Linked DNA regions of Homo sapiens. The protein of the gene in region 3 interacts with the protein of the main gene of each other region in a pairwise test. Each region holds a gene or a part of one and is shown on either strand. Other genes may lie near its edges. The genes, in order: CEBPG, BATF3 and DBP.

The links.
Region 1: the proteins of DBP (region 3) and CEBPG come close enough for resonance energy transfer, tested with the Homo sapiens proteins (one large-scale study listed by BioGRID and IntAct).
Region 2: the proteins of DBP (region 3) and BATF3 come close enough for resonance energy transfer, tested with the Homo sapiens proteins (one large-scale study listed by BioGRID and IntAct).

What each region holds. Positions count from the first base shown.
Region 1 is NC_000019.10:33,376,564-33,379,947, forward strand, and holds part of CEBPG (CCAAT/enhancer-binding protein gamma), read left to right. Parts: intron 1-2,580; 5' UTR 2,581-2,676; coding exon 2,677-3,129; 3' UTR 3,130-3,384. UniProt on the Homo sapiens protein: Transcription factor that binds to the promoter and the enhancer regions of target genes. Binds to the enhancer element PRE-I (positive regulatory element-I) of the IL-4 gene. Binds to the promoter and the enhancer of the immunoglobulin heavy chain.
Region 2 is NC_000001.11:212,689,733-212,693,377, forward strand, and holds part of BATF3 (basic leucine zipper transcriptional factor ATF-like 3), read right to left. Parts: intron 2,636-3,645; exon of another isoform or gene 2,532-2,635; intron 1-2,531. UniProt on the Homo sapiens protein: AP-1 family transcription factor that controls the differentiation of CD8(+) thymic conventional dendritic cells in the immune system.
Region 3 is NC_000019.10:48,634,577-48,639,012, reverse strand, and holds the start of DBP (D site-binding protein), read left to right. Parts: upstream 1-1,633; 5' UTR 1,634-2,018; coding exon 2,019-2,157; intron 2,158-3,022; coding exon 3,023-3,433; intron 3,434-4,436. Other genes in the region: CA11 (carbonic anhydrase-related protein 11 precursor), read left to right, coding at 1-125, 869-894. UniProt on the Homo sapiens protein: This transcriptional activator recognizes and binds to the sequence 5'-RTTAYGTAAY-3' found in the promoter of genes such as albumin, CYP2A4 and CYP2A5. It is not essential for circadian rhythm generation, but modulates important clock output genes.

The DNA.
Region 1 (3,384 bases), about 15 Mb from region 3:
TAAAGAGTTCCTGGATGATGATGATGCTGGTCCAGGGACCACACTTTGAGAACCACTGCTCTTCAGCTTTCCTGCTGTTTCCTCCTTGAGTGATTCACATGGAAGGAAGCCAGGCGCCGCCCTGCATCCTGTAGCCTGAACTTTGGAATAGTGTTTGTCCACAGAGGAGCCAGACTTGAATTTAGGACTGAGTGTCCAGCTTTCAAATAAACACTTTTTGCCTGTTGTAGGTGTTCAGTAAATGTGTGTGGAGGAACAAAGCGTAAATGAGAGTGGCCTTTTCAGTGTAAAATCACTTAGCTCTTTGATCCCCTTTTACTTGGTTAATCTTCACTTTAAGAGCTATTTATATGGTTAAAGAACTTACTAAACAAAACATTCTTGGAGTTATTTTGATTATCTCCAAGTTTCTCTTTCTTACATTTTCACCAGTTTGTAGGTTCAGTGAATACTCTTTTCAGGCCAAAGGGCTTACCTTTAAAACCTCACCTACCACACACGTTCAGCCTAGTACCTTGCAAGATGAGTCAGGCAGAGGTGAAAAAGCCCTTCCCTGTTCCTGTATCTTTGGATACGGAAACAGGCGTGAACGTTGCTGAACGTGGACCCTGTAGTGAGTAAGAGCTGTTTGTTAGTGACTGAAGGTCGTGGTGTGTTGTCTGTAGGAAAGTGTCTTACTATTCCACATCCCTCATTTGCATGTGGGGAACAGACAGCCATGGAAGAAAAGAGATTTGCCCAAACTAAAATAGGGGGAGCCACAGCCAAGACAAGAACTGGCCTGGTCACTGGTCTCTACCGCTTTGGATCATTGCTATCTCTGAGCATGGACAAGTTGACTGTAGAGAGCTTTAAAGGCTAAAAATATAATTGGTATATTAAAAAAAAAGTAGAGAAATAAGGTGAACATGATTATGATTGTTAAGACAGTCTCAGGGGAGGTGTTAAACAAGTTCTTAAAAATTGAGTAAAGCACCTCTCACTTGACACCAAATGGATAATAATAATGTTAGGTGGCACTAAATGTGGCTCAGATTAATACTAAACAGCCACTTTTCTACTGGAAGAAAAATGAGGCAACCTAATGATGACCAAGGGAAATTGTGAACTGTCCATTACTGAAGATAGGCTTGGAGTGGATCGCCCTCATGGTTTGGAGGGATGCTTTTTGTCTTGCCTTAGTGTTGGCGTGAGAACAGATGACCTACTAGCTCAGAGTCGGCTGTGTGGCTTTGAAAACAATGGAAAGTAATGACACATGGACTTTTCAAAGCAAAGATGTTTTTTAAAAAGAGACCAATAAACAGTGTACAGAATTGCCTGGCTGAAGGTTTGGGTGTAGCTACTGGTGTTTGCTAACTGAGCTTTCCCTCATTGTGGGATCACTGCATAAATCTGACTCCAGATTTTTTCCACTGATGTGATTTTAGCAGTTTTGTGAAAAGAGAACAGGATAGTTTTATGTTCCTAACACTGCTTTCTAAATTTCTAAGAGTGCCCTGATTCCTTGGTGGACACCGTTCACTGAACTTAGTTTGTCTTGAAGTGGCCTCATGTTGATAGGATAGTCACACTTTTACACTTCTTGGGGCAGCTGTAGGGACTTAATTGGATTCAGAGTAATCCACATGTGACTGCTTTTCGAAACCGTGCCTTCATTTCTGCAGGCAGCAGCACAGGGATGCTTCAGAGCTGGTGCGTCCTCCGAGCTCACACGAGCTCATTTGGTAGCACGAAGTGGCCACAGGCACGGCAGCTGCTCAGCTCCTTTGTCCAGCCTGGGTCCCAGGACCCGCACTTCCTTGGATGCATCATGAGGGCTTCTGTTTCTTTCCTTGTGGTTTCAGGTTGAGTGTGTTTTGAGTTTTACTAATTATGTCAAGAAGAAAAAACACACTTTTTACAAGCTTGGTGGGATGGGGAGCAAATTGAGTGTCAGAGCTCCTAAATTCAAGAAACTGACTCAGTAAATTTGGTTAAACTGTGGAATTATCATTTGAGGTCATTAAAAAAATAAAGCAAAAAACTACCTTTTCAAAATATCCGATGAAGAGAGCTCTGGGAGAGAACTCAAGTCCTCGATGACTCCCTCTCTGCATATTAGAACATGGAACCCGCAGGGGTGATAGCATGAGAGCGCTGGAGACAGGGTGCGCAACCCCAGCCTTCTGTTTTGACTTGAACCAACAATGGAAACTTTTCCCCCCTTTCATTGCAGGTGTCTCTCCTACTACAGTCAGCTGCAGCTCCTCCCTGGGAGATTGTCAAGTGCTGTTAGTTCACATGCGCCACCTAATTAGTGGAAGTCTTTTGTTTTCCTCCCATTTTTGATAACAATCGCAGAGGGGCAGTGCCCTCAGGGATCCAGGTGGGCTGAGTTTCGCCTGATGGTGCTTCTGTGCTTACTTACCTTTCTAAGTGAAATGATTTAGACTTCAGAAACATTGGAACAGTTGGCAGTTGCTGTAGACTTTTCTCAGCAGAATCAATTAATGTTGGCCTGATGTTAGGTACGTACAAGTTTGATCTCATTTGATCCTGTCATTTCAAATATTTTAATGCAATTTATTTTTTAACTAGGTACATGTGAAGATTTTTTGGCAGCTTAGCGTGGAAACCATTGATCACCCTGCTCTCATTTCTACCTGTTCTGTGTTGGCAAGGGAGAGTGCCCAAATGAGCAAGATATCGCAGCAAAACAGCACTCCAGGGGTGAACGGAATTAGTGTTATCCATACCCAGGCACATGCCAGCGGCTTACAGCAGGTTCCTCAGCTGGTGCCTGCTGGCCCTGGGGGAGGAGGCAAAGCTGTGGCTCCCAGCAAGCAGAGCAAAAAGAGTTCGCCCATGGATCGAAACAGTGACGAGTATCGGCAACGCCGAGAGAGGAACAACATGGCTGTGAAAAAGAGCCGGTTGAAAAGCAAGCAGAAAGCACAAGACACACTGCAGAGAGTCAATCAGCTCAAAGAAGAGAATGAACGGTTGGAAGCAAAAATCAAATTGCTGACCAAGGAATTAAGTGTACTCAAAGATTTGTTTCTTGAGCATGCACACAACCTTGCAGACAACGTACAGTCCATTAGCACTGAAAATACGACAGCAGATGGCGACAATGCAGGACAGTAGACCTCACCCTTTCCAGACTTTAGAGCTTGTGGCTTGAATGTTAAAGGTGTGACCACCGACACCACTCATGTCAATGGCTGAAAGTTGTCCATTTCCATGACTCAAAGACCCATTGGAGGCTATTTTCTGGGATCAGCACTGAAGAGTTGATTAGCTAAAAATGTTAGCCTTGTAATTCGAATATCTGGTTTTAAATGATAGAGGTTTTTGTGGGAATCAAAATCCCCCAAATGTTAAGGTATATGGTAAAAAAAG
Region 2 (3,645 bases), on a different chromosome or scaffold from region 3:
ACACTCTTACACACATACACATATACACACACTCACACACGTCCGCAAACACACTCACACACTCTCATACACAGCCCGACACACACACTCTCACACACACACACTCATACACAACCACAGACACACACACAGATACACACAGTCACACACACATCTGCAAACACACTCTCATACCCAGCCACAGACACTCTCACACACATACACAATCAACACACAGTCACACAAACACTCTCACAGTCACACACATACAGTCATACACACATACATACACCTCACACAGTCACACACACTCACAAAAACTCAGACTCACATGCAGACTCCCCACATTCACATTCACATACACACTCACACACACACACTCCACCCTGCAGCAGGAAATGCCCTTGACTTTCAAGTAAAATGGAGAGTACATTTGAATAGTTCCAATGTGCTAACATTTTAAGTAGATTCCAAAGGACAAGAAGCCCTCTTCCTTTGGTAGAATATTCCAAGCTGCCTTTCTACATATACTGAATTCCGCAGCAAGACGCTCTGAGCTTCCCAGTTTTGTCTCTGGAAGCCGTGCGCAGCCCTGTGGCCTGAGGCTTCCCTGAGGTCCACTGCCCTCCCCCAACCCATGCTTAGAGTCTTCAGAGCCGCCCGACAGGTGCCCCACGGGCCCCTCATCTGCCTTCTCCATAAGGACTTTCTCTTCTAGGATTTAAGCATTACTCATAAACCCGCTGAGGGACTTTTATTGAGCTGAGGGAATAACAAGAAGAGAAGAAGTCAAAATCTTTAGGTGAGACGAGCCCTTTGAAAATAACAAGAGGAGCTGGGAGGGAAGAAAGAAGAGGCCAGAGAACACTGAATAGCAGCAAAGGGGGAAGAAATGAAACCCACCTCACACCCAGAAGAAATTCCTGGAGTAAACGCAAACAAAAAGCAAGCAAAGAACATTAAACCCTTCATTATTTCCAAAAATATGACCCCTCTAGCTCGAATTCTGCCAAGTTCCAAATCCTTTGCCATGGGAGGGTTTGAGGTTGCTGTGCTCCCTCTCTGGGTATTTGTCGGGACAGTTTCAAAGCAGACACCTAAAAATTAGAGGTGGTGAAATCACTGTGGATCCCAGCTCTGCCTCAGAAATTAAGCTGCCTAAGGCAGTGGATCTCAAGTAGGGCAATTGTGGCAGTCTGCAGGGGACACTGGCAGTGTATGGAGACAGTTTGGGTTATCGCAGCTGGTCGGGGGTGCTACTACATCATGTGGCTAGAGGCCAGGGATGCTGCTCAACATCCAGCAGCACACAAGACAGGCCCCCAACAACAAGGAATTATGCTGCCCCATGCATAAACAGTGTTGAGGCTGAGAAACCCTGTTCTGGGCATCTAGGAGCAGGTGACTGGGATCAACGGGCTGCCTAGGGATACGCAGGGTCCAGGATGCCTCTGAGGCTGAAGACAGGATCAAGGACTGGTAAAGAAGTGGGTACCAGGGACCAGATATGACAACTAAGGTGAGAAAGAAAGAAGTAGGAACAGGCTAACAGGAGGCCATAGCCACACACAGACCCCATTTCACAAGTTAGAAAACTGAAGCTCTGAGAGGTACAGTGACTTTTCCAAGGTCACATAGACCTGGGATCTGACTCCTAACTTCAAGGTCAACTGCAACTCTCTTGTAGCATCAACAATTCTGCTTTTAGTTAGCAGTGCCTGGGTCCAGATTTCCCCATGATGGTTACCAGAAGTAAGAGGCCATAAGATCTCAGGACTTCAGAATAAGTCTACTCCCAAGCCTTCACTGATGCACTTCCCAGCAGAAAAATTGTGTTACCAGCAAGGGCTGTACAAATGAGTGCCACAATCAGTTTCTAAGCCACATGGGTGCTGCCATGAAGCTCTCAGAACATGCAATATCTGAAAAAACCATGGCAACACATACCACAATCACATTGCCCAAGTCATTTGTCAGTTTGTGACATTTGGGGCTCCTGAGGATGGCACTGCTGCTTTCCTTTTGTGACTCAAAATTCTTTCTCAGTCTTACACCTTTGGGGTGCCTGGTCGAGCCAGTCTGACCCACTTCTGAGCCACCTTTCAGCCTGGGTGAGATGAGACGAGACCCTGACTGTTCACTTTGGTTCTCATTTGTCAGTGTGGACTTTGGCACACGCCTAGTGTTCAGAGATGAATGCAGGTCGAAATCCCCACGGGAGGTGTGAGCGGGTTGAAGGGATGATTTGAAAGCCCACAGTGGACTCTGAGGTCTACAGACACACGTTAAGAACTGCTTCTCATCACCGTAGTCCAACTGCCAGCAACCACTGCCCAGAAAACTCTGCGTGAAGGGGAACCCCAGCCCCTGCCTCTCTGGCTTGGCCTGTGCAGCCTCTTCCCCCATTCTCCCCTCCACAGAGGGCTCGCCTTGACGGACACTCCTAGGACTTTGGAGATGGAGAACAAGGAGGGGAGGGAGGTGGCCGAAAAACTCCTAAGAGCTGCAGCTGGGGCAAGTTTCTCAGGGTGTTGGAGGCAACAGAGGCTCAAGTACTCACTTCAGCAGCACATACATTAAAATTGGAATGATACAGGGATTAACATGGCCCCTGAGCAAGGATAATATGCAAATTCATAAAGTGTTCCATATTTTTTTAAAAACCCAGGAAGACGAAAGAGCAAAAAAAACCCAAAAAAACCAGAGGCTCAAGTATAGGTAGAGTATGTGAGTGAGGTGAGGAGAGAAAAGTGGAAACTCTTGTTGCCCAGGCTGGAGTGCAGTGGCGTGATCTCGGCTCACTGCAACCTCCACCTCCCAGGTTCAAGCAATTCTCCTGCCTCAGCCTCCCGAGTAGTTGGAACTACAGGCGCACGCCACCACACCTGGCTAATTTTTGTATTTTTAGTGGAGATGGGGTTTCGCCATGTTGGCCAGGCTGGTCTTGAACTCCTGGCCTCAAGTGATCCACCCGCCTCAGCCTCCCAAAGTGCTGGGATTACAGGCACGAGCCACTGTGCCTGACCAAAAAGTGGAAACTTTAAACAAGTTTGCTCCAAATATCCCCCCTCAGGATATGCAAGAAATGCAAGTAAAGAGCTTGAGTTACTTTGAGATATTCAGGAATGCAATCCCTGCAGTGTGGGATAGAGGAACACATGAAGAAAGCCCTTTGATGCGCTACAGTCTCCAGGGAGCAGCAGGCAGTGGCTGTCAGTGGCTGTTTTCTGGGCCCTCTGGTGTCTCCCAATGAGCTGGCCTCACTCCAGATTTGAGGAGGAGGTTCCTATGCATGGTGTCCCCACCCTAGATTGGCCTGGGAGGTCCAGGGGTCCCAAGGGGCTTTCTGTCATGGCCCGCAGTAGTGTGCAAGGCGCTCTGTGCTCAACTCACTGGAGCTTGACAAAAGGGTTCTTTACACCATTTTTAAACCAGATACCTTGCCTCCAATAGTAGATTTAGTCATCCAATGATACACACAGCTACAATGCCCTCCTGGAAGGAACAGGGAAGGGATTACTCACGTGGTGAGTAATGATTTGGTTCAGAGATGATGTTCCTTTGGTTCTGCAGAAGGTTTGGGATATACTTCCATTTTCCTAAGCCAGTCGTCTGCTTCCTCACCCGCTTGTGACCAACGACACTTGTGTGGAGCTAGTGAGGCTA
Region 3 (4,436 bases):
GATCTTCCAGAGCCTCAGCGGTAACAGCCGGCCCCTGCAGCCCTTGGCCCACAGGGCACTGAGGGGCAACAGGGACCCCCGGCACCCCGAGAGGCGCTGCCGAGGCCCCAACTACCGCCTGCATGGTATGGTCCAGTCTGCACCCCCTCTAAGTCTTGGGCTAACCCTCTTATATGTGTCTCCCCTTGGTGTCTCAGTGTGATTCAGTCCCATCCTCCTTCCTGCGTCTATATGGTCTAGCCTCGTGAGCTGTCTCTTTTTCTCTCTTTCCCTACATGTCTATGTGGTACAGTCCACCTGCCAGCCCTAGGCCATTGCTAGCCCACGATTTGTCTTTCCTCTTCACTGCTTTGTAACTTGGTCTATAACCCTTGACCCCTGCCTTCCTATGGTCCAATTACCTACTGTTCTGTGCTTCCTATTACTGTGAATTTCCAAAATGGTACAATTTGGATCCTCTCTCCCTTTCCAAGTCGTACTACCTTACGCTGTTCCACAATCTGATGCTCCCTTCCCCCTTACTGAGAATCTACAAGGTACAACCCCTTCCCTCCACCTCTGCCTCCCTGTGGTTTAGCCCAGGAATCTCACACACCCCCGGCTTCGCAACATGGTACAGTCCACACCCCCCCCCCCCCATGAAGACCTTCAAGTAGTTCAGCCTACTGCTGAATCTGGACGTCCCGATTCCCCCCTCCTATTGGCTTCTTGTGGTTCAGCCCAGTGCTTCTCGACCTAGTACATTCTGGTTCCCCGCTCGCAGACTTCCGACGGTAGGGCCCAGCGCGGCGCAGCCCACGCCCCCTGCACACCCCCCGCCCCTTCCATCCTATACTGACGCCCCCTGCCGTTGTTCTCTGTCTTACAGTGGATGGTGTCCCCCATGGTCGCTGAGACTCCCCTTCGAGGATTGCACCCGCCCGTCCTAAGCCTCCCCACAAGGCGAGGGGAGTTACCCCTAAAACAAAGCTATTAAAGGGACAGAATACTTCCTGTTTTCTCAGTGGTCTGATTCTAGGCGCGGTGGGGAAACATTTGGGTATTAAAGAACAGACTTCTTCCGGAAACCAATCTTCCTCTTTCTAAACCTCCGCTCTCGGTATTTTGGCTTCCTGCTTCTCAAAACCATCTTTAGGACCGCGGCCCCTTTAAGCGGCGCCCCTTTTCCCCCCATCACCCCCCTCGCCATCAGGCAGCACGAGCAGAGCCATGTGCTTCCCCCTCCCGCCTGCCTCATTGGCCCAAACTGGGTCACGGTCCCGCCCCCCAGTACCGCCTCCCATTGGGCAAATGTAGGTCAGTGTCCCGCCTCCCACCGAAAGGCAAGGCAACTTCACGCGCTGAGCCCCTCACGCGCCCTCCTGGGCCCTGGCGGACCCAGAGGCCCCATTGGCTGTGCGTCTCAAGGTGTCGGAGACGATTGGTCCGTGTTTGCAGCCGGAGGGAGGCACGCGGCTGGGTTGCATGCCCATAGAGGCTGGCGGGGCTGGACGCGCCGGGCGGGGACCCGGAGGAGGGGCGCGCGCTGTGGCGTCGGGTGTTTTGGTTTGGATTTTTTTTTCCGCGAAAGAAGTTTGCTTTGGCCACGCCTCAAGGCGGCCGCCTCCTCCTGCCCCCTCCTCCGCCCCTCCGCGCACACCTCTCGGTGCAGATTGCAAAGCGCCTTCCGTTGCGAGAGCTGCAGATTTTGCAAGAGCCAGGCTCGCCCACCTTGTAGAAGGAGCGCCTTGAGTCCCCTCTCACCCTCGGTTGCAAAGAGCCGACCGCTTGATCTGGACACCCCCTCGCCCAGATTGCATGATCTCCCGGGACCCTCTTGAGTTGCACGTTTCTGCACCGAGGACCTCAAATCCCCGTCGCTCCTAGGATTTGCAGCGTTCTGGATACTGGAGGGTTGCAGGCTACACTCGCCCGCCCCTGGGCAGACACTCGTCCAAACCACTGGAGTGTGCTGGTGACTGGCAGGCCAGCCCTTCGCCTCTCCATGAACCCGTGAGCCTGGGGGCAGGTGCCAGGCGATGGCGCGGCCTGTGAGCGACAGGACCCCGGCCCCTCTGCTGCTGGGCGGCCCGGCCGGGACACCCCCTGGCGGGGGAGCGCTGCTTGGGTTGCGGAGCCTTCTGCAGGGGACCAGCAAGCCCAAAGAGCCGGCCAGCTGTGAGTTCTAACCCCCATCTCACCCACTTCGGACACCCTACCCCCTTAGGGACTCAGGTGCCGTGGGGTGGGGTCCCATAGAAACCTGCGTGCGGGGAGTCCATCTTCCCAACCTTAATCTACTCAATTACTCAGGTGTTTAGGCCCCTAGATCCCTTAGCGCCCAGGACCCAAAAGCGCCGGCTCTGAAGCCCGTCCACCCTAAGGACCCAGGCACCAACGTCCCCAACGTCCTCCCCGCTTAGTTCACAAGAGTGTAGGCCCCAGCCTCCTCTTCCTTTTGGTCCGGGAGTCTGGACCCCTGGGGTCCCAGGGAGGGGGTGTGTCGGGTGCTCACACGGTGGTGACACGGGCTTGGGCGGGGCGTCATGGGGTCACATGGAGTCTAGGGATGAGGGATGTGCCCCAGGAATAGAGCCCCTTCCTGCCCCTTACAGATGGTGGGGGAGGGGAAGGGGGTACAGCGCGCAGGGGATGGGGGTTGGGTAATTACAGTGAAATTACAGAGCTGTCATTTTTTCTCTCACCTGCCCAACCCTCCACCTACCCTGTCCCTGCCCCCCTATTCCTGAACTTCCGTCTCTCTTTCTCTGGTTCGCTGTCTTTCTGTGTGTCTATTCCTTCCCGGCATTCTGTCCCCATCTCTGTGAATCTGTCCACCTGTCTCTGCCACCCCCGTCTCCATTCTTTCTGGGTCTCTCTCCCACTCTGCGTCTCCGTCCCTTTTTCTCCCGTCTCTCCTCTCCGACCCCCCGTCCCCTCTTTCTCTGGATCTCCGCCCTGTGCCTCTCGGACTCGGGGTCTCTTCTCCATCTCTATCTCCCCCACCTCACCCTCATCCCAACCCGTCTTTCCCGGCCCGCAGGTCTCCTGAAGGAAAAGGAGCGCAAGGCGGCCCTGCCTGCAGCCACAACCCCTGGGCCAGGCCTGGAGACTGCGGGCCCGGCGGATGCCCCGGCTGGGGCAGTGGTGGGCGGAGGGTCCCCGCGGGGGCGCCCGGGGCCGGTGCCCGCCCCGGGTCTGTTGGCGCCACTGCTGTGGGAGCGCACGCTGCCGTTCGGCGATGTGGAGTACGTAGACCTGGACGCCTTCCTGCTGGAGCACGGGCTCCCGCCCAGCCCGCCGCCCCCCGGTGGCCCGTCGCCGGAGCCGTCGCCCGCGCGGACGCCCGCACCCTCCCCAGGGCCGGGTTCGTGCGGCTCGGCTTCCCCCCGCTCCTCTCCTGGGCACGCCCCCGCCCGGGCTGCCCTCGGGACCGCCAGCGGCCACCGCGCAGGTGCGGCGAAGGGGGCGGGGCGGGTCCTGACGGGGCGGGGCTTGGACTCAGGGGGCGGGGCTGTGCGACGCTGGGGGCTGGGACCGTGGGACCTGGCTGCGGCCTCGAATTCTGTGTCCAGTTGTCGAGAGGTGTCGTGGGAGGGGGCCAGATTCGGTGTCTCTTAATGGGTCAGGGACCAATGGATCCATGGGGGAGGAGAGACTTGGAACCCTAAATTCCAGGAAGCCTGCCCAATGAGATTTTGTGGGTTTTTCTGTGGGACTTGGGGACAAACGATGTGGATACTCGTGAAGCCAGAACTGGAAGTCCGGAACACCAGAGTTATTTACTGGGGAGTGGACTGACCCCCGAATCTGGGCCCATAATCGATGGAACTGGGATAGGACTGGAGCCCCTAGGTCCTTTACAGGGGCAAAGGCAAAGGAGAGGCACAGAATTCTGTTTACCCAGGACATAAGAGACTGGCAGCCCAGGTCCCTGGGTCCCCCAGTGGGGCGTGCTGCAGCCCCGGGTCCCAGAGTTCTTCAGAAGGGAAAACGTTAGGGATGTTGTTTCTGGATCCTCCAATTGGGGCTGGGGCCAAGCTTCCTATATTCCTAGGAGAGGCCTGGGATCCCAGAATCGTGGTAGCCCAGTGGCGGGGGTTCTGGGAAGGTCCAGGAGGCCGATGCTCCCCGGAGAGCAGGGGGTTGGGAATCTTTGGAGGTTGAGTGGAACTAAGTGACTGGAAGAGCAAGAGGAAAGATGTTTCCCTTTGGGCACATTGAGGTCTCCAGGGACGGACTGCAGGTCGGGGATTCCTGGGCACACCTGCTCCAGGTCCGACCTCCGGGCCGAACCAGGGCCCTACCCTTCCCAGCGGCACATTCCTGCGCCACGTGAGTCCTCCCATCCCTCCTCCGCGCTTCGCGCAGGCGCCTTCAAGCGCGAGGGGGGCGGGGCCGGGGGAACGTGAGGGCGCCGATGGCGGGGGCCTGGGAGGAAGGGAGGAGGAGGGAAG